Homo sapiens: one gene and its partners. The protein of the gene in region 3 interacts with the protein of the main gene of each other region in a pairwise test. Each region holds a gene or a part of one and is shown on either strand. Other genes may lie near its edges.

Evidence for each region.
Region 1: the proteins of TMEM140 (region 3) and CLRN1 interact in binary tests that used the Homo sapiens proteins (3 or more experiments, as listed by UniProt).
Region 2: the proteins of TMEM140 (region 3) and CLEC17A interact in binary tests that used the Homo sapiens proteins (3 or more experiments, as listed by UniProt).

What each region holds. Positions count from the first base shown.
Region 1 is NC_000003.12:150,961,922-150,969,995, reverse strand, and holds part of CLRN1 (clarin-1), read left to right. Parts: intron 1-8,074. UniProt on the Homo sapiens protein: May have a role in the excitatory ribbon synapse junctions between hair cells and cochlear ganglion cells and presumably also in analogous synapses within the retina.
Region 2 is NC_000019.10:14,606,816-14,613,341, forward strand, and holds the end of CLEC17A (C-type lectin domain family 17, member A), read left to right. Parts: intron 1-177; coding exon 178-287; intron 288-3,248; coding exon 3,249-3,381; 3' UTR 3,382-5,220; downstream 5,221-6,526. UniProt on the Homo sapiens protein: Cell surface receptor which may be involved in carbohydrate-mediated communication between cells in the germinal center. Binds glycans with terminal alpha-linked mannose or fucose residues.
Region 3 is NC_000007.14:135,157,383-135,165,456, forward strand, and holds part of TMEM140 (transmembrane protein 140), read left to right. Parts: intron 1-7,035; 5' UTR 7,036-7,059; coding exon 7,060-7,617; 3' UTR 7,618-8,074.

The sequences.
Region 1 (8,074 bases), on a different chromosome or scaffold from region 3:
AATCTTACCAGTGTAAGAGGAATGGAAAAGGTAACTTATCAAGGTAACAATCACTTCGTGGCCAGTTTTTTCGGCTCACTGCAACTACCCCTCCTGGGTTCAAGCGATTCTCCTGCCTCAGCCTCCCAAGTAGCTGGGACTACAGGCGTGCACCACCATGCCCAGCTAATTTTTTTTTTGTATTTTTAGTAAAGACAGGGTTTCACCATGTGGGCCAGGCTGGTCTCATGGCAAGTTTTCTTTGTGTTGTCATGTTATTATCAATTAATAGGAATTTATATTTCAGTTCTGTTAGGTGGATAAACACTATTTTGCATACCTAAATGTTTCATTTATATCAGCACTGGCCAATAAAAATATACTATAAGCAGGCCGGGTGCAGTGGCTCACGCCTGTAATCCCAACTTTTGGGAGGCCAACACTTTGGGAGGACACAGGGTCAGGAGATCGAGACCATCCTGGCTAACCTGGTGAAATCCCGTCTCTACTAAAAATACAAAAAATTAGCCGGGCGTGGCGGGGGCGCCTGTAGTCCCAGCTACTTGGGAGGCTGAGGCAGGAGAATGGCACGAACCCGGGAGGTGGAGCTTGCAGTGAGCCGAGATCTCGCCACTGCACTCCAGCCTTGGTGACAGAGCAAGACTCTGTCTCAAAAAAAAAAAAAAAAAAAAAAAAAAAAAAATATATATATATATATATATATTACAAGCCACAAGCCACATATGTACTTTTAAATGTCCTAGTAGCCATATTAGAAAACAAAAGTAAAAAGGAATAGATGAAATTAATTTTAATGATTTTTTTAAACCCAAGATATCCAAAATATTATCATTTTAACATATAATTAAAAATTTATTGAGATGTTTTACATTGTTTTTTTTTTTCTTGACGCTGTCTTGGAAATCTAGAGTGTATTTTACATTTACATTACATCTAATTCAGTCTAGCCACATTTCACATGCTCATTTTTTTGTGTGTGGTTTTATGGAGCAGAGAGTTTAATAGGCAAGAAAGAAAAGAGAAGGCAGAAGAAAATGGCTCCCCTGTACAGAGACGCGGGGGTGGGGCGCTCCAAAGCCAAAAGAGGAGGTCCCTAAGTATGGTAGACACCAGCCAGGAATATATGCAGTGTCTGGAGGAGGGGATGTCTGATTTGCATAGGGTCACATGCTCATTTTTATGGCTACTGTATTGGTCAGTACAGATTTAGATGGGGATTTGCTCTGAACAAGTTGGTGATTGATGGTGTTCATATTTTAATTGAATTTTTCCTGGGTTCTGCTGTACACTTGTATGTGTGTTAGTTTCATGTGCAATGCTTGTGTCACTTTTAAAACCCAGATATATGGCATAACATGAGAATGAAAAATGGACCAGAAAAATAGTTTGGCAATGTAGTCATGTTTGTTCCTATTAAATGTTCCCTATTGACCACTCTATCTCTTTTAATTATAACAAGAATCTGCCCTGCCAGCATGCCCAGTTACGCTGGGAAAACTTCTGCCTCATTTACTCTGGCTGATTCTCATCCACTTATGGGTCAGTGGTTCATTTTCTAGAGGTCACCAGCATTCATACCTAGCATACAATTTCATTCATTATAATGAAGGAATGTTTTCCCTTCAAAGAGACACAACTAGTGGGCTTAATTTTTCTTGATATGTCACCTGTAAAATTTTAATGATGATGTTTAAACTCTAAATGTAGCCATCAAGACAAAAACTGCAAATTTTGAGCCTCAGTGTGTGTGGGTGGGTTTCTGTTTCGGTAATTTGAAACATTGCAGAATATCATCAAAATATGATACCCAAGAATCATATGGTATCAATCATTCCTAGATATACTGATCTATTCATTGCCAAGATAGTTCAATGAGCTGGCAAAAACATATGGAATTATTTTCTTAAAATGTGAAAAATAAAATTTAACCAATCATGTATCACAGCTTGCAACTTTAGTCATACTTTGAAAAGCATTTTAATTTGGACCTCATGATTGAAAATTTATAAAAAGCTGAACAGAAATTAGTTCACTTCATATTTTAGAAAAGCAGAGTTTCTTTACTAAATGAGGCATTTGACCCAAATTGGAGAGAAAATGTTGAAACTACTTCTGTGAGCAAGCAGGTGGCTTCTCAAACACATGTTGGGATGAAATGGTTGGGCCTCAGGGTCTCAGTGCCTGTCACTGAGAGTTGGCACTCTCTATCTCCATGGTCTCCTCCAAGTGTGACTCTTGTCTCTTGCTGACCTGACCTGCCCCAAGTGACTCACTGGTCATGACCCTGCACACCTTGCGTCTCTCCTATCACCCTGCCGATGGCAGAGCTACAAAGGTCTTTGATGTAGCTCTGTCTGATATCCTGTGTTTCCCCCTATGGTCTGTGTGGAAGCAGGTATGGGGGTGTGTAAAGGGGAAGCCTATGAAGTTCATCTGCAAAGACTACCTGGTTAGGGGAGGAGAGGAAGAAGCTATATGCACCATTTCACCAGCAAGCATGGGCTCTTCTGCCTTTTAGCTTAGGGGTCCTGTTGTCTAGTCTCACTCACCTATTAAAACAGTCCAGCAAATAGAGGTTTTGTTTACCTCCCATTAAAAAAAAAGCAATTAATGGAATAGAAGATAATAATGTATGAGAAGCACTATTGTGAAAGAAAAACCTTCAACTTCTCTCAGCCAAATAATTGCTTCCTCCTCTGTCCTTCCCAGACCTTGATGTTTGCTCTATTATTTCAAAACAACTATATTATAAATATTTGAGAATGTGTATTTCCCTGCAAGGAGATCTTAATCCCCAAGAAGGCAGGAGCTGTGTATTATTCATCCCAGTGCTCCTTCAAACCAGGGCCTCAGACAGTGCATGGCCCAAAGAGGTACTTAATAAACGTTTGGTAAACTGACACTATTGAAATTAAGCAACCTGGATTTGAGGTGGGTCTCTGCCACTCACAAGAGATTACGCTTTGAGAAAATTCCATCACTTCATTGATTTTCAGTTCTTGCATCTGTATATGGGAGACGATACTAGGTGATTTCTGACATCTCTCACCGTTTAAATGCTCTGTGATCTATACAACGAGGGGCTCGCTGTTCTAGACAAGTTCCTTCCAGCTTTACAGTTGCATAACCCTTCTAATCTTAGTCACATGATGACTCCACTGACAGATTTTTGGCCACCATCATTAGACATGCTGAGTTACGTGTGCCTTTGCTCTGATCCTCAAAACTCATGATTTTTAAAGTTTTCTGAAATATCTACCATTTATCAGGATCCAGATGGATTTCATGACCAAAGTGGATGTTTCTTTTCTCTCCCATTACAATCTTTTACTTTTTGTGTGGGAAATTGCATGTTAAAGAAAGGGAAATTGAAGAATGGGATGCTTTGGAATTCTGGCAAGATGGATTAGTGGGTTCCAGAAAGTAGGGGCAGCCACAAATACCGAAATAAATGAGATCGTATTATTGAGAAAGCACAAATGGAAGAAGGTCAAAAGCAAGAAGAAGCTGACATCCTGCTTCCTCCAATTTTTGCTTTCTCTGTTTTTCCAAGAAACTCCTCTTCCAAGCCTTGCTGAAAAACTCCACTTTCCTAAATCTAACTTCTTAAACTGATAATGGCAAGAAGTTAGGAATGACCAATATGTTTAACACTCCAAGAGTATTTGTTTTGTTTTGTTTTGAGACTGGGTCTCACTCTGTCGTCCAGCCTGGAGTGCAGTGGTGTGATCACAGCTCACTGCAGCCTTGACCTCTCCTGCCCAAGGAATCCTCCCACCTCAGCCTCCTGAGTAGAAGGGACCACAGGCATGTGCCACTACACCTGGCTAACTTTTAAAAAATTTTTTTGTAGAGATGGGGTTGCCCAGGCAGGTCTCAAACTGCTGGGCTCAAGCAATCCTCCTGCATTGGCCTCCCAAAGTGCTGGAATTATGGGCATAAGCCACTACGCCTGACCTCTCCAAGGGCATTCTTTACCCAGAAGAGGAACTTGGCAGAACTTATCCTCCAATTGGTGAGGAATATGGAGAAAATGACTTTAAGCAAAGGAACTTCTGGTTCTGCCTACCTAATCCAGAAAAAGAAGTTTTATTTCTCCCTTCCCCTAGTAACTATCTTCCCATATTCACATAAAAAAGTACAGAATCAACATTGTTCAAGAATTATAATTTTACTTGTAAGCACATGTGCACACGCACACCCATATACCTTCCTTCCCTTTAAATCATCCCACACCCTAATAGTAGTAAAATCATTGACCCGAGCATACCTGGGAGAGGAAGAGGAGTCTGACAGGGGCAGGTTCTAAGTGGCACTCCTGGAACTTAACCCTGGTGTATATGAACTTTACCTATTGAAGGATGACTCCTCAACTGTTCTCACAATTTGCTGCTCTGCTTTCTTTTCTAATTTCTGAAGGTGACTCATCTTCCCCAAGGACTTTCAGACTTCTCAGAAGAAAAAAATATTGGGTGGGTCTCTGCCACTGGCAAAAGATTAGACTTTGAGAATCATAAAAGTATATCAGTATATACTCATTAATATTGAATTACTATAATTAATATTATGATATTGATATAATGATAGAATGATATTGATAAAAGCAATATTCAATAATGAATATTATTTCAGCTGCCCACTTATTGGGTGCCTCATAGGTGCCAGGCATTTTGTATGTATTATCTACAACCCTTACATGGGACATATTATGATGCTGTTTCTCTTGAAGAAATATGGAAACTGGAAACAGAGAGGTCACCACAATTTTCCAAAGTCACATAGCTAATAGGTAGCAGACTTGGGATTCAAATTCATATGCATATGGTAAATCATGCTCTTCCTCTGCTACATTTTGCCCCCTTAGAATATGAAAAAGGGATACAAAGAGATGAAGAAAATATGTAAGATTATCCTTCAATTTCACTATCTTTTTTAAAGTTTTTTTTATTATACTTTAAATTCTGAAATACATGTGCAGAACATGCAGGTTTGTTACATAGGTATACACGTGCCATGATGGTTTGTTGCACCCATCAACCTGTCATCTACATTAGGTATTTTTCCTAATGCTATCCCTCCCCTAGTCCCCCACCCACCGACAAGCCCCGGTGTGTGATATTCCCCTCCCTGTGTCCATGTGTTCTCATTGTTCAACTCCCACTTATGAGTGAGAACATGCGGTGTTTGGTTTTCTGTTCCTGCGTCAGTTTGCTGAGAATGATGGTTTCCAGCTTCATTCATGTTCCTGCAAAAGGCATGAACTCATTTTATGGCTGCATACCATTCTATGGTATACATGTGCCACATTTTCTTAATCTAGTCTATCATTGATGGGCATTTGGCTTAGTTCCAAGTCCTTGCTATTGTGAACAGTGCTGCAATAAACATATGTGGGCATATGTCTTTATAGTAGAATGATTTATAATCCTTTGGGTATAGACCCAGTAATGGGATTGCTGGGTCAAATGGCATTTCTGGTTCTAGGTCCTTCAGGAATTGCCACACTGTCTTCCACAATAGCTGAACTAGTTTACACTCCCACCAACAGTGTAAAAGCGTTCCTATTTCTCCACATCCTCTCCAACATCTGTTGCTTCCTGACTTTTTAATGATTGCCATTCTAATTGGAGTGAGATGGTATCTCAGTGTGGTTTTGATTAGCATTTCTTTAATGACAAGTGATGATGAGCTTTTTTTCATGTTTGTTGGCCGTATAAATGTCTTCTTTTGAGAAGTGTCCGTTCATATCCTTTGCCCACTTTTTAACGGGGTTTTTTCTTGTAAATTTGTTTAACTTCCTTGTAGATTCTGGATATTAGTCCTTTGTCAGATGGGTAGATTGCAAAAATTTTCTTCCATTCTGCAGGTTGCCCGTTCACTCTGATAATAGTTTCTTTTGCTGCGCAGAAGTTTTTTTAGTTTAATTAGATCCCATTTGTCAATTTTGGCTTTTGTTGCCATTGCTTTTGGTGTTTAGTCATGAAGTCTTTGCCCACGCCTATGTCCTGAATGGTAATGCCTAGGTTTTCTTCTAGGATTTTTATGGTTTTAGGTCTTATGTTTAAATCTTTAATCCATCTTGAGTTAATTTTTGTATAAGGTATAAGGAAGGGGTCCAGTTTAGTTTTCTGCATATGGCTAGCCAGTTTTCCCAACACCATTTATTAAATAGGGAATCCTTTCCCCGTTGCTTGTTTTTGTCAGGTTTGTCAAAGAGCAGATGGTTGTAGATGTGTGGCATTATTTCTGAGGCCTCTGTTCTGTTTCATTGGTCTCTGTATCTGTTTTGATACAAGTACCATGCTGTTTTGGTTACTGTAGACTTGTAGTATAATTTGAAGTCAGGTAGCGTAATACCTCCAGTTTTGTTCTTTTTGCTTAGGATTGTCTTGACTATTCAGGCTCTTTTTTGGTTCCATATGAAATTTAAAGTAGTTTTTTCTAATTCTGTGAAGAAAGTCAATGGTAGCTTGATGGGAAAAGCATTGAATCTATAAGTTACTTTGGGCAGTATGGCCATTTTCATGATATTAATTCTTCCTATCCGTGAGCATGGAATGTTTTTCCATTTGTTTGTGTCCTTTCTTATTTCCTTGAGCAGTAGTTTGTAGTTCTCCTTGAAGAGGTCCATCACATCCCTTGTAAGTTGTATTCCTAGGTATTTTGTTCTCTTTGTAGCAATTGTGAATGGAAGTTCACTCATAAGTTTGCTCTCTGTTTGTCTGTTATTGGTGTATAGGAATGCTTGTGATTTTTGCACATTGATTTTGTATCCTGAGACTTTGCCGAAGTTGCTTATCAGCTTAAGGAGATTTTGGGCTGAGACGACAGGGTTTTCTAAATATACAATCATCTCATCTGCAAACAGAGACAATTTGACTTCCTCTCTTCCTATTTGAATACGCTTTATTTCTTTCTCTTGCCTGTTTGCCCTGGCCAGAACTTCCAATACTGTGTTGAATAGGAGTGTTCACCACCTATTTTAAGAATAGTATTGAAGCCTCACAAAAGCTGGTTCTCATGTAACCATCTGAGAATATTTGGCCTTATGACTTGAATTCATTCATTGCCTTTTTATTTCACATTTTAGTGATCCTGATGTCTAAATCTTAATCTTTGATCCTTGCAAGGTAAAATAGCCAAGTCAAGCCTGTTTAATAATATTGGTTGAGGAAGTCACATGCTTATGATCAATCTTTGGGTTATGTAATTATATTACCTTAATGTTGGCAGTTTAGGTGTAAGGCAGAGATATCTGATCACATGTGTGGTTAGCTAATTTAAGATCACTGCCAACTAAAATCTTCATGGTATGATCTTCAAAGTTAGCTACTTTGACCACAGCAATGATTTCACCACAGCAATTAACAAAATGGCAGACTCTTTCCTGAGGTGGCATGAACAGTTTTAAAACAAAGTCAAGGACCAAAAGAAAAGCAGGCACATGGCATTTGATTCATTTCAAAAACTAGTATTGTATTAAGAGCCAAGGGGATAGAATTGTAGCATCAATTAAAATCTTGTTTGAAAAAAAATAAAAACAAACGTCCATTTTTATCTCTCAAATATATTAGGGTTTTCATAAAGTTATAGGTGTATTTTTAAAAAAACAAAACTCATATACATTAGACTGAAAAATTTGCCTGTCATCTCATCATGCAGCTAAATGCAATTGTCTATGGCGAGATACACTCTTATTAGAGGTATGATAGCACTAACTAATAGCAAACTTTGTACCTGGTAGTCTAATTTATGCAGGGTTCATATTTCGCTCCCTCTCAGCATGCTGTAACTGTGGCAAAGCCATTCTCAGGAGTTATTACCCCAACATAATCATACCCCTGTGGATTAGGAGCAGTTAAATGGGTCCTGTTATCAGAGACACATATGTGCCACAGCCGCTGTCATCCCTAAGCCACCGTGGGTGATTAAGACTCACTGATGGGACTACCTCTGAATAGGCTTGAGTGAGGTGGATACACTTCAGCTGAGAGAAATTCAGGTAAGGGGCTGAGAAAATCAGATTTTGAATGGTTTTATCATACCATCAGGTCTCCTTTTAAGTGCTGGGGTC
Region 2 (6,526 bases), on a different chromosome or scaffold from region 3:
CACACATGCTACAGTGGGAGGAAGACATTGATCCTGTTCTGCATACCATGGGGACGGGGACGGGTTGTGGGAGGTGACGTTCCCAAGCCCTAAATATGTAGGACAGGGCACAGGGCAGGTCCTCACCCTGAGGGTCATGTAGAGGAATGGCTGGCTGAATGGAATTTTTATTTGCAGAATTTTGTGGCCAAGGCCCATGGCTCTCCACGGGTGTACTGGCTGGGGCTGAATGACAGGGCCCAGGAAGGGGACTGGAGGTGGCTGGATGGGTCTCCTGTGACATTAAGGCAAGTGCTTGGGTTTCCTGGGGTCTCTCTGCTTCCTCTGTGGGCCCTGACCATGGGGAGGGGAGAAGGTGATGGAGTACATGGTTGAAGGAGTCAGGAGCTGTTTCTTTTTTTTTTTTTGAGACAGAGTCTTGCTCTGTCGCCCAGGCTGGAGTGCAGTGGCGCAATCTCAGCTCACTGCAAGCTCCGCCTCCCAGGTTCAAGGTATTCTCTGCCTCAGCCTCCCGAGTGGCTGGGACTACAGGTGCCCATCACCATGCCCGGCTAATTTTTTGTATTTTTAGTAGAGACGGGGTTTCACCGTGTTAGCCAGGATGGTCTTGATCTCCTGACCTCGTGATCTGCCCGCCTTGGCCTCCCAAAGTGCTGGGATTACAGGCGTGAGCCACCGCGCCCGGCCAGGAGCTGGTTTTTACTGGTACAGCTCTACTTGTTTTATTTTATTTTATTATTTATTTATTTATTTATTTATTTATTTATTTATTTATTCTTTGAGACGGAGTCTCGCTGTCGCTCAGGCTGGAGTGCAATGGTGCGATCTCAGCTCACTGTAATCTCTGTCTCCCAGGTAGAGGTTGATTCTTCCACCTTAGTCTCCCAAGTAGCTGGGATTACAGACACCCGCCGTCGTGCCTGGCTAATTTTTGTAATTTTGTAGAGATGGGGTTTCACCATGTTGGCCAGGCTGGTCTTGAACTCCTGACCTCAGGTGATCTGCCCACCTTGGCCTCCCAAAGTGTTGGGATTACAGGGGTGAGCCACTGCGCCCAACCTTATTTTAGTTTTTTGAGACAGTCTCGCCCTGTCACCCAGGCTGGAGTGCAGTGGTGCAATCTCGGCTCACTGCAGCCTCAACCTCCCAGGCTCTGGTAATCCTCCTGCCTCAGCCTCCCGAGTACCTGGGACCACAGTCACACACCACCATGCCTGGCTAATTTTTTGTATTTTTAGTAGAGATGGGGTTTTAGTGTGTTGCCCAGGCTGGTTTTGAACTTCTGAGCTCAAGCGATCCACCCGCCTTAGCCTCCCAAAGTGCTGGGATGACAGGCTTGAGCCACCACACCTGGCCTCTACTAATTTTAAACACAGAAAAATTCCTGTCCTGTTTGGTAAATTGCCATTGCCTTAAATCTCCTGAGAATCCTTCTGCTGCCCCTTGGACTTCCACATCACCTAACAACTAAAGGATTTGTCATTGGCAAAGAAGGGGCCTAGAGACCCTGATTGCAGGGTGTGTGGCACAGGTAGCATTGCTCATTATTTTGGTACACCACCCCCAGTCATTCCCATTTCCCTGTGTGCTTGGCATCCTTGCAGTCCAAGCTGATAGGGTGTCTAGCATCCCAGGCTTGGCCAGACAGGGACAGCACCAGGGTGATTTTTTGGTGACAGGCTGTCTGGACCCTGAACCTTCAATATTTCCTCCATTGCAACATCTCAGTCTTTTCGTAAAACTGCTGAAATATATCAAGCTCTCCAGGCTAATGGTTGGGAGAAAAAAGGGAGGGTGGAAGGATGAGGAAGAATTTTTTTTTTTTTTTTTTTTTTTGAGACAGAGTCTCACTCTGTTGCCCAGGCTGAAGTGCAGTGGTGCAGTCTTGACCCAATGCAACCTCTGCCTCCCAGGCTCAAGTGATTCTCCCACCTCAGACTATTGAGTAGCTGGGATTACAGGTGCGCACCACCATGCCTGGCTAATTTTTTTTTTTTTTTTTGAGACGGAGTCTCACTCTGTGGCCCGAGCTGTAGTGCAGTGGCACAATCTTGGCTCACTGCAACTTCTGCCTCCTGGATTCAAGCGATTCTCCTGCCTTAGTCTCCCAAGTAGCTGGGATTACAGGCGCCCGCCACCATGCTTGGTTAATTTTTGTAGTTTTAGTAGAGACGGGGTTTCAACATGTTGGCCAGGCTGGTCTCGAAATCCTGACCTCAGGTGATCTACCCGTCTTGGCCTCCCAAAGTGCTGGGATTACAGGTGTGTGCCACCGCACCTGGCGGAACATTGGCTGCTAAAGGCTCACAGGAATGCTTTTTCCGCAAAGCTATTCTCAGCTGAATGGGAGCCTGCTCACCTAAGACACTACCCAACTCCACTGGGGTCAGCTCACAACCGGTGACAGCCTAAGAGAAGCCTGGACCCCTTGTGACAAGTTGGGATGACTCTGGTGCTGTTGACATCCCAGTGGTCTCTGTTGGGGTCAGGCTGAGGCTAGAGTCATCTGAGTCCATGCTCCTGCTCAATTCCTTCCCCTTCTCCATCTAGCTTCCCTCACCTCTCTCCTAAGAACATCCTTTAATAAATCCTACACACTCGAGTCCCTGAATCAGGCCCTGCTTTAAGCAAGAGCCCACATGATCTAAACAATTCCTAGAAGGTTGGGTTGGGAGGTTGTAAAAGAAAGAGTCCTTGGAAGACAAGACAGAAACTGACCAGATTCAGAAATTGATTAAGGGGCCAGGCACGGTGGCTCGTGCCTGTAATCCTAGCACTTTGGGAGGCTGAGGCGGGCGGATCACTTGAGGTCAGGAGTTCAAGACCAGCCTGGCCAACATGGTGAAACCCCGTCTCTACTAAAAATATAAAAACTAGCCGGGTGTGGTGGTGGACACCTGTAATCCCAGCTACTTGGGAGGCTGAGGCAGGAGAATTGCTTGAACCCAGGAGACAGAGGTTGCAGTGAGCCGAGATCACGCCACTGCACTCCAGCCTCAGCGACAGAGTGAGACTCTGTCTCCAAAACAAAACAAAACAAAACAAAAAACCCCCCAAAACCAGAAATTGATTAAGGGCCAGGCACGGTGGCTCACTGTGCCCGGCTTACAGGTGTAAGGCTCCACACACGGCCTAATATGGGTTTTGCCAAATGCGTAGTGCCAGGTATTCATCATTACAGTATTATACAGAAGAGTTTCACCACCCTAAAGATCCCTGTCCCTCTGCCCACTTTTTCCTCCATCCAGCTTCTGGGAGCCAGAGGAACCCAATAACATCCACGATGAGGACTGTGCTACCATGAACAAAGGTGGCACCTGGAATGATCTCTCTTGCTACAAAACTACGTATTGGATTTGTGAGCGGAAATGTTCCTGTTGAAGCCCAGGGCCGAGGCTGGGGGTCCATATCTGAGTGTCTCTTTGAGATGAGAATCTCCTGCCCTTTCGTGGACGGCCTTGCCTCTTCGTGAGTGGACACACAGATGTGCCTCAAACAGGATTGGCACCCTGGATGCAGCAAGTTCCCAGGGGTGCAAGTCAGGCTGTTTCTAGAGTGAGGACTTGGGCTTGCCCTAGTAGATGGTGAGCTGGGAGGATGCTCAGAGCTTGGTGGTGGGAGGTCTCCCACTTCTGGGGTTGAAAGGATCTTCACTAAGTTCCTGATCATGACTCTTGGGAAGTGATACTAGCCCTGAGGACCCTGGGGCTGGTGTTGAACCTGGGATGAAATATCCTGGCGCCTGTGAACCACAAAGAGCTGGGACTGGGCTCCTTTTCCTGCAGCCTCAAACTTCTGGGCTCAGGTGATCCTCCCATCTCAGCCTCCTGAGTAGCTGGGACTACACATGCGCACCACCATGCCTGGCCAATTTTTTGTAGCATTTAAAGAGAGGGAGTCTCACTATGTTGCCCAGGCCAGTCTCAAACTCCTTGCCTCAATGGATCCTCCTACTTGGGCTTCCCAAATTGTGAGGATTACAGGTGTGAGCCACTGTGCCTGGCTCAAAATTATTATTATTATTTTTATAGAGATGAGGTCTCACTCTGTTGCCGAGGCTGGTCTCAAACTCCTGGGGTCAAGCAATCCTTCCGTGATGGCCTCCCAAAGTGCTGGGATTACAGGCATGTGTCACCGTACCTGGCCGATATTTTTATTTTTATTTTTACTTTCCCCATCTTTTCCTTTTTTTTTTTTTTCCAAACAAAAGCTTTGAAAGTGGTGACAGAAAAATTTCCCTTTGAGCTAGACCTCTAGATCTGCCTCGCACAGAAATACATTAAGTGGGCTGGTCTCATGTAGTCCCCACATCATTGCAAATTACAAACCTAAAAATACAGAACATCAGCGGAGAAGACAGGAGAGCTTCTATATTCACCCCATGTCGTCCTCTCCAGACACTGCTTCCTTCCTGGTCTCAAACAGCACAAATAACCCAGAAACCATCAAAATTATTTTTGACCAGCAACTTTCTCAATGTCTTGGGTGAGGTTTGCACAAGCTAAGTGGCAGAATCAGACTTTTGCCAGAAGACTTGGCCCGTGGAACTTCTATCCTTTTTTTTTTTTTTTTTTTTTTTTGAGATAGGGTTTCATTCTACTACCCAGGCTGGAGTGCAGTGGCACAATCATAGCTTACTGCACCCTCTGCCTCCTGGGCTCGAGTGATCCTCCTGCCTCAGCCTCCCAAGTAGCTGGGACTACAGGCGTTCACCCTCACACCTGGCTGGCCCATGGAACTTCTAGAAAGGCATACCAGCTGAAAAGCAAGACCCCTACATAGTGTGGCCAGGCAGGCCATAACCTGGTCATATCCACACAGGACAACGATGGACCTATCTGCCAGCACGTGCCCTTGAGCTATCTGTGGGTTGTAACGTCTTTGATGATATAATTCACTTTACTTGCCAGGCACAGTGGCTCACGCCTGTAATCCCAGCACTCTGGGAGACTGAGGTGGGCTGATCACCTGGGGTCAGGATTTCGAGACCAGCCTGGCCAACATGGTAAAATCCTATCTCTACTAAAAATACAAAAAAATTAGCTGGGCGTGGTGGCATGTGCCTGTAATCCCAGCTACTCAGGAGACTAAGGCACGAGAATTGCTTGAACCCAGGAGGCGGAGGTTGCAGTGAGCCGAGATTGTGCCACTGCACTCCAGCCTGGGTGACAGAGCAAGACTCCATCTCAAATAAATAAATAAAAATAAAAATTCACTTTACTTCTGTGTGGACTTTCCTGGGCTATTAGCTCTTGCAATGTTAGTGCTTCTCAAAATGCCACTATGTTGGGTGTTCCTTGTCTACTGTGTGTTAGTTTGCTGGGGCTGCCATAACAAAGGACTGGGTGGCTTCAGCAACAGAATGCATTTTCTCACAGTTCCGGAGGCTGGATGTCCAAGATCAAGGTGTTGGCAGGGTTAATTTCTTCTGAGGCCTCCTGTCTTGGCTTGTAGATGATCCTCTTCTCCCTGTGTCTTCACCTGGTTCTCCTTCTGTGTGTCTGGGTCCTAATCTCCTCCTCCTCTTCTTTTGTTTTTGAGACAGGGTCTCGCTCTGTCACTCAGGCTGGAGTGCAGTGGTGTGATCTCAGCTCACTGCAACTTCCACCTCCCAGGCTTAAGCATCCTCCCGCCTCAGCCTCCTGAGTAGCTGGGATTACAGGTGTGCACCACCGTGCCTGGTTAATTCTTGTATTTTTTGTAGCAACGGGGTTTCACCATGTTGCCCAGACTGGTTTTGAACTCCTAGGCTCAAGCAATCTGCCCACCTTGGTCCCCCAAAGTGCTGGGATTACAGGCATGAGCCACTGTGCTGGGCCTACAACGACCACTTTAAAGATCCTGTCTCCAAATACAGCCATATTAGGAGGTCCTGGGAATTAGAATTTAAACATATGCATTTGGGAGGGGTGGCACAATTTGGCCCATAACATTCACAAACTGCCAGAGTGACCCCCACCCGACCCTCCTGCCCTGGCCATGTGACAACCAAAAAATACCAATTAGAGGGCTGGTACTACTCCCAGCTAGGCATAACTCAACATAGTATTCCCTTTGGACAATCCCTGAATTGCATCCAAGGGTGGGTAGACATTCTCCAAACCAATCAATTTATTTTTTTTTTTTTTGTGACAGAGTCTTGCTCTGTTGCCCAGGCTGGAGTGCAGCGGCGTGATCTCGGCTCACTGCAACCTCTGCTTTCCAGGTTTAACTGGTTCTTCTGCCTCAGCCTCCTGAATAGCTGGGATTTCAGGCACGTGCCACCATGCCTGGCTAATTTTTGTATTTTTAGTAGAGACAGGGCTTTGCCATGTTGGCCAGGCTGGTCTCGAACTCCTGACCTCAAGTGATCCGCCCACCTCAGCCCCCTAAAGTGCTAAGATTACAGGCGTGAGCCACCATGCCTGGCCTTATTTTATTTTTTGAGACAAGGTCTCACTCTGTCGCCCAGGCTGGAGTGCAGTGTTGTAATCATAGCTCACTGAAGCCTCAAACACCTGAGCTCAAGAAATCCTCCGTCCTCAGA
Region 3 (8,074 bases):
GCTGAGACTAAGTCCCCAGAAGTTTAGCTGGGACTTGGATGCCAACTGAGCAGCCTTTGGACCCCAGTGGTGGCAACAGTGGGGTAAGTGTGCCCTTTTTAGGCCCCACAGCAGCTTACGCTGCTCTGGTGGTTAGTGGGTCTTGGAGGGCTGATTCTTGGGCCTCCACATGGCTTGCTTAGAAGCTAGTAGTGGGAGTGGTGAGCCCAGTGTGTGGGCATGATCTCTAGCCCCTGAGCAGGTGGTGTCATGTGAGTGATGGCAGTAGCACTGTTGAAGCAGCCAACTGGGATCCAAGCAGTCCATGTTGGTGTTGCTGGAAGCTGTGATGGGTTGGGTGAGCTACTCCCCAGTCTCACAGCCACCTGTAGCAGGGTGGTGGGCACTGTTCTAAGTGTGCTTAGGAGAGCTTGGTCTTCCCTGTCCCTTTCCTACCAGGGTGGCAGCTGCAGCCACATTGCCTGATTGTTAATTCAGACTGGTTATGAATCAGCATTAAACTCTCAAAATGGTGCCAGCTGTGGGCTTGTGAACAGAGAAGGTGGGGCCCCTATCAGGTGAGCAGCATGGTCAAGAAGCTGTAGGGAGGGTGGTCTACTTGAGTCTCGGTCTCACAGCAACCCGTAGCAGGCACTGGGTATTGTCCTAGGTATGTGCGGGAGAGCATAGATTCCTTGTTTCTCCTTGACTGGGCAGCAGCTTCAGCCACATCAAGTTGAACTCAGCAAGAAGGTGGGGCACAGCCCAGCATTAAACTCTCAAAATGGCACCTTGGGCCTGTGACCAGGAGGGCAGGGGTCCCTCCAGGCAGGCAGCATGGGCAAGAAGCTGTAGGGAAGGCAGTCTGCTCACATTTCAGTCTCAACAGCAGCATGTTGCAGAGCAGTGGGTATTGACCTAGATGTGCATAGGACAGCCTGATTTCCCTGTTAATCCTTGGCTGGGTGGCAGCTACAGCTGCACCAGCCCAATCTCAGTTCCAGGGAGGGGTGCTGCCCAACATTAAACTCTCAAAATAGCACCTGGAGCCTGAGACCAGAGAGGGAGGAGCACCTCACAAGTAAGCAGCATTGGCAACAAGCTGTGGAACACACAGGATGGCCACATCTCGGTCTCACAGCAGCCCATGGCAGGGCAGGGGGTCTTGTCCTAGATATGTGTAGGATGGCCTGATTTCCCTATCCTTCCTTAGCCAAGAGGCAGCTACAGCCTCATCAGCCCAAACTCAGGCTGGGAGGGGAATGCAGCCCAGCATTAAACTCTCAAAATGCTACCTTGGGCCTGGGATCAGAGAGTGTCCCTCCCAGACAAGCAGTGTGGAAAAGAAGCTGTGGGGAGGGGTGTCTACTCACATCTGTCTCAATAGCAGCCCACAGCAGGGCAGCAGACCCTCCCAGGGGTGCATGGGAGCACCTGCTCTCCCGTCTCCCTCCTTGAAGCAGCTCGGCAGCAAGAGCCATGTCTGTAGAGTCCCAGTATCTAGGCTCTCAAAATGGCACCCTGCTGAGGCTGCTCCAGGTTCAGATGCATGTGAGATTTTGTATTGGTTTCCTTTCTGGAGCAATGCCTCTGTGCAATGTTTAGGCAGCTCCGAATGTCAGGCCCAGGCCCTGGCCCAGTGGGTCGAGGTTTCCTTCCGTGGCCAAGATTATAAAAGTTTGTTTTGGAGCCCTAGGGGGTTCTCTCTTACTGTTTCCCCACATCAGGAGCCTCTCCCGACTCTCAGTCGGTTCCCAGCTGGGCAAGCTGCCTCGAATCCTCTCCTTACTTCTCATGTTTCCCATATCTTTTCTGGTTTATCCTAGCATTCTCTCCTAGACAATCTGTTCAAAATGGATCCACTTACTATTCTGGTTTCTCACCATGGTGGAGGCACATACTACCTGTGTTTAGATAGCCATCTTGATCCTTTCGAAAATTTACTCTTTCAATAAGAACCTGACAAATACATAATTTAGAATTAAATGATACAATATTTGTGTCTCTTTCAGCCGCCATCCCATTCTCCCTTATTAGTATGAAAATGTTAGAGGTGCTTAAACCAACAAAAAAGCTGCCTTAAATTAATCTCCTGAGAATACTTTCCTTCTATTTCCCTAACTAGGAATTTGTATCGCCTTTAAGCAGAAATCATCTCCCTCCTAAGGCCCTGCTCAGGCTGTAACTCTTGAGTGACAGTGGTCAAGTTACATGCTGACCTGGAATCTAAATCTGCATCTTGTTCCAGAGGACCTAGTGCAGCAAAGCATTATACTTTACTGTCACAACTAAGATGGCAAAAGGCTAACAGCCTTTATTTTTAAAGGGTTCATACAGACCAACAAACAAAAACTGAAACTCAAAATTATTTTTAAAATAGCAAAAGAACTGACAGCACTTCACAAAAGAAGAAATACAGATGGTCAACAAACACTTGAAAATGTTAAACTTTACTTATTATGAAGAAAAACTATCAATGATTCATCATTTGTCATTATCAAAGAATAAAAGACTCAAGAATATGCAATACTGGGGAGGATGGGATGAGACAGGCACTCTCTGAAACTGCTGGTGGAAACATAAGTTGATTCACAAAAATATTCACCATAGCATTCATAGCATTATAAAATAATGTTACAAAGCATCTATGTATAAACTATAAACTATGATACAGCTATATGCAGCCCTTAATGTTTAGGAACCATTTCTAGTTCACATAGAATGATGTTCACAAAGTGGGATACAAACATATATATTTATGTAATCCCAACAGTGTAAAACAATAGTGTAAAAAGAAGTGTGCTGTTCAGAGTGGTTATTTCTACGACCTGAAGTATAGATGACTTTTAGTCTTTTCTCTGCACTTTCATGTATTTTCTAGTTTCCTACAATCAGCATGTGTTATTATAAACAGGAAAAGGTTTATCTAAAAATGGCCACAGTGACTCAGCAGTCTCCCCTTTGCCCTCTGAAGGAAACACTGGCTTATCATTAAAGGACATTTAAAAGCTCATTGTGGTGGAAGTGTCATTACCAGGATTGTTTAAGAAAAGAAAAACAAAAACCAGGGAAGGCCCATGGGGAAGTAGAGAAGAGTGTCATGGGGTTTCCAACCAAAGATCCATATGCTGTCACTGCAAAATGTTTAGGGAAAGAAGCGAGGACTGACTTCCACCCTCTCCATACACAAGTTCCTGAATTCTGTCCATAGTTCAACAGAAAGCATGGATGGGCCATGCCAGCACTGTGCTGAGCATGCATACGACATTAAACACAACCCTCCCTCAGGCAGCTCTGCTGTCCTAAGATGTGTAACCAGGATTCGTACATGAAAGAACTCAGGGAGCCTATGTAGCATTTTCATTCGCTCATTTAAAAAAAAAAAACAAAAAAAAGAGCCCCTACTGTGTATCAAAATAACAAAACTGAAGACTGTTCCTCAGAGACATGACACTAGAGTGGAGAATAAATCCTAATTTATAGCTAAACCAGAGTGTGGGCTGAAGGAGCCCAGGAATGCTCTTGCTGCATGGATCAGATTTAGAGAAGCAGAAAGTAGAGTAGGACTCTAGGAGCTGGGGGGTGGCTGAGGATGGGCAGATGGGAATGTATTCATACACAGCCTGAGCAGCTGAGCAGGTGCTGGACTGCACAAGGCAAGAGGGGAAGCTGGGCCTCACCAGAGAATTCCAAGTTCAAGTTCCAAGTCGCACCAGATGATGGCGAGCCTCATAAGAGCTGGGACTGAATATAAAAAGGTGAGAGGCCACCACCTTCTCCACATGCCTGGTCCTGGGCTTCTTGGCTCGTTTTGTTTTGCTCTACATTAAAAGGTCAGTTGAGAGAAAATGAGGAAGTCAAAACAAAGGCTCCTGGCGTCTGGCAGGAGCTGCCGCAAGGTGGCTGATGCAATCTCCCCGAGGAGCCACATTAATTTTTAAAAAGGCAGCTGTTTTCAAAGCAAAACGTTTAATAATTTTTTTTGGAACCCCAGTGTAACAGAATTCAAATGGGAAAAGTGAGAGGGAGTGTTTAAACAAAGGCATCCCCAAGTCCCTTCCCAGTTGGTCCTGAACAATGGAGGAGGTCAAACCTTCTTTTCCACAGCATGATGGTATAAATCAGGGAAGTCCTGGAAATCTATTCCACACCCTAAAATACCCAAACCCATTAAAAGCACAGATATAGGCTTTTACAAACATTTACTAAATAAGCAAAACCATACAAAATATGTTCCCGTCGGCAATTTTTCCCATACCATGGACTCAAATGGTTAAAACTCCTTATCATCCCAGACTAATGCCACCTTTTCAATTCCCAATAATTCCTTCCGTAACAAGCATCATTGCTCCAAGAATCTCTCAACTACATTCAAACCCGAGTCTTCAGACCCTTGGCCCTCTGGGACCTCCAGAGCCTTTGACAGTGCCACCCAAGGCAGCAGCCAGGGCTTCTGCTGGGACAGCCCCTCACTCCTCCACTCTGACTGTCCCCACTGGGCTTCTCTGGAGCAGAAGCCACGGGCAGAACTGGGCAGACTGCCCAGTGCTGCTGAGTCCAGAGAAGCGGCATCTGAGGGGAGGCGGTGGCAGTGTGGACCCCACCCTTACTGTATTCACAGGCCCCAGCTCTCCATCAGCCAGCCTGCCCAGGTCTCTGCCAAAGAAGTCGCTGGTCAATCTTCATTCTCATTTTTGGCATACACCTAGGTCCTTTGAATGGAGCTGCCCTCTCTCTCAGCCTGTTCCATGTTCTTTATTTTCCCCACTTGGTCCCTTTCTGTAACAAATGCAGTGTGTAGAATGAGACAGACCTTCCAGTCAGCTCTGGGAAAGAGGAGGGAGCTGTTCCCCCAGAGGGGTCCCCTCAGAAACTGATCATCAGGGCTGTGTAGCCTTCAGGTCCCTTCCCAGGGCCACGACTCATTTTGCTGCTGAACACCACCTGGGACTCCCTGCTGGGGCTTCCAGGAGGCCATTTGGTATCATGGCCCCAGTACCTTGTGCCTCACAAAGCTTGAAGCTCTGTGTTCCTAGTCACTTCCTGGTGAATGCTGTTGTATTAGTCCATTTTCATACTGCTATGAAGAGATACCCAGTAATTTGAAAAGAAAAAGAGGTTTAATGGACTCATAGTTCCACATGGTTAGGGAGGCCTCACAATCATGGTGAAAGGCAAAGGAAGAGCAAAAGCACATCTTACATGGCAGCAGGCAAGAGAACATGTGCAGGGGAAATGCCCTTTATAAAACCATCAGATATCATGAGACTCACTACCATGAGTACAGTATGGGGGAAACCCACCCCCATGATCCAATTACCTCCCACTGGGTCCCTCCCACAATGTGGGGATTATGGGAGCTATAATTCAAGATGAGATTTGGGTAGGGACACAGCCAAACCATATCAGCCGAAACTTATCCCATACTGGAAAATACACATATGTAAAATACAGTGTGCAGACCACTGTTTCAGAGACCAACTGGACAAAGCCCTTCTGATTTAAAACGGAGTGAAAAGAATTTTTTAAAAGAGTATAACAAAGTGGGCACTTTTATATACAATTAGAGGGACTATGATTAGCAAATTTTCTGTAGGCCAGTTAGGCAGTATTTAGCAAGATCACTAAAAGATATTTCTACCCTTGATCCAATGATTGCACTTATAGGTAGATCACCTGAGAAAAATCAGATTCCAAACACGATTCACACAGCGTCTTCACTTATAATGGTGAAAAGTGGAAACAATTTGTCTAGTAATAGTGTAATGGATGATCCCACATGAACTATTGCACAGCCATTGATCATGTTTTTGAAGAATATTTAACAGCTTTGAAAAATGTTTACTAAATCTAGTGAAAAAACATTACATTCAACATCATGATTATGTAAAAATACATCAGTACAGGAAGAAAATATTGGTAGAATATTAACAGTGGTTTTATGTGTATGATGGGATAAAAGGTTATCTTTTTTATTATTATTTTTAAAATATCTTCTGGCCAGGCATGGTGGCTCATGCCTGTAATCCCAGCACTTTGGGAGGCCAAGGTGGGTGGATCATTTGAGGTCAGGAGTTCAATCAAGACCAGCCTGGCCAACATGGTGAAACCCATCTCTACCAAAAATACAAAAATTAGCCAGGCATGGTGGCGGGTGCCTGTAGTCCCAGCTACTCGGGAGGCTGAGGCAGGAGACTTGCTTGACCCCGGGAGGCAGAGATTGCAGTGAGCCAAGATCGCACCACTGCACTCCAGCCTGGGTGACAGAGTGAGGCTCCATCTCAAAAACAAACAAACAAACAAAAACGTCTAAGTTTTCTATAATTCATACTACCATTGTCAGGAAAAAATATGTATTAGTTTTTAAAGTAATGAGTATATGATGGGATTTCATCACCAGGTGACATCTTGTCTTGACCCAGTAATGAGTTCCCAGAGCACTGCAGGTAAAATCAGAGTGGGTGTGTCAGTGGTCCTTGACCCAGGCTCACCTTCGAATGAGCTTCAGAGCTTCAGAAACACACCAGTGCCCAGCCCGAAGCACATAAGTTGAGCTCTGATTGATCTGTGGCCCAGCAATGGGTAGTTCTTACAGCTCCCCAGGTGGTTGTCTTGGCAGCTGTGGTGAAAACCAATAGCTTCCTCCACCTTCAGGTCTCCATTAAGGGTGGGCCTTGCCCTTCACCTCAGTCAAAACCCACCTTCAAAAAAGATCTGAGAAATCCCCTCACTAATGTTTCCAATGGCTTGTTGTATTTGGACTGGAGCAAAGCCTTTGGCTAAAGAGCACTTCACTCAGTTTAAGATGTTTCACACTTTCAAAGCTGCTTGGGAGAGACTTTTCCTCCTGACCTCAAATCAGAGGGCAGCTAATGACTTATTTGCAAATAGGTCCTGGCAGGAGGTTACCTCAGACTTCTGGTCCTTGGTGGAGGGCAGGGTAGGAGGGAAACTTGCCATGAGTTTGTAAGAAATGCCAAAGGGAGAACATGAGCTTGTCTGGACACAGGGAACAAGCAAGGGAGAGATGGACTGACTGCTGTGACTTCCCCGCAGGTCCCCCGGCAGAGGGCAGTAGAGATGGCCGGCCCAAGGCCTCGGTGGCGCGACCAGCTGCTGTTCATGAGCATCATAGTCCTCGTGATTGTGGTCATCTGCCTGATGTTTTACGCTCTTCTCTGGGAGGCTGGCAACCTCACTGACCTGCCCAACCTGAGAATCGGCTTCTATAACTTCTGCCTGTGGAATGAGGACACCAGCACCCTACAGTGTCACCAGTTCCCTGAGCTGGAAGCCCTGGGGGTGCCTCGGGTTGGCCTGGGCCTGGCCAGGCTTGGCGTGTACGGGTCCCTGGTCCTCACCCTCTTTGCCCCCCAGCCTCTCCTCCTAGCCCAGTGCAACAGTGATGAGAGAGCGTGGCGGCTGGCAGTGGGCTTCCTGGCTGTGTCCTCTGTGCTGCTGGCAGGCGGCCTGGGCCTCTTCCTCTCCTATGTGTGGAAGTGGGTCAGGCTCTCCCTCCCGGGGCCTGGGTTTCTAGCTCTGGGCAGCGCCCAGGCCTTACTCATCCTCTTGCTTATAGCCATGGCTGTGTTCCCTCTGAGGGCTGAGAGGGCTGAGAGCAAGCTTGAGAGCTGCTAAAGGCTTACGTGATTGCAAGGGTTCAGTTCCAACCATGGTCAGAGGTGGCACATCTGCTCAGCCATCTCATTTTACAGCTAACGCTGATCTCCAGCTCCAGCGATGGAACCCACTACAGAGGAGGTGGGGCCCCTGTGTCAAAGAGGCCGAGGGGCAGCAAGGGCAGCCAGGGCACCTGTGACTTCTTAGTACAAGATTGTCTGTCCTTCAGGACTTCCAAGGCTCCCAAAGACTCCCTAAACCATGCAGCTCATTGTCACACCAATTCCTGCTTTAATTAATGGATCTGAGCAAATCTTCCTCTAGCTTCAGGAGGGTGGGGAGGGAGTGATTGCTGTCATGGGGCCAGACTTCCAGGCTGATTTGCCAAATGCCAAAATGAAACCTAGCAAAGAACTTACGGCAACAAACGAGGACATTAAAAGAGCGAGCACCTCAGTGTCTCTGGGGACATGGT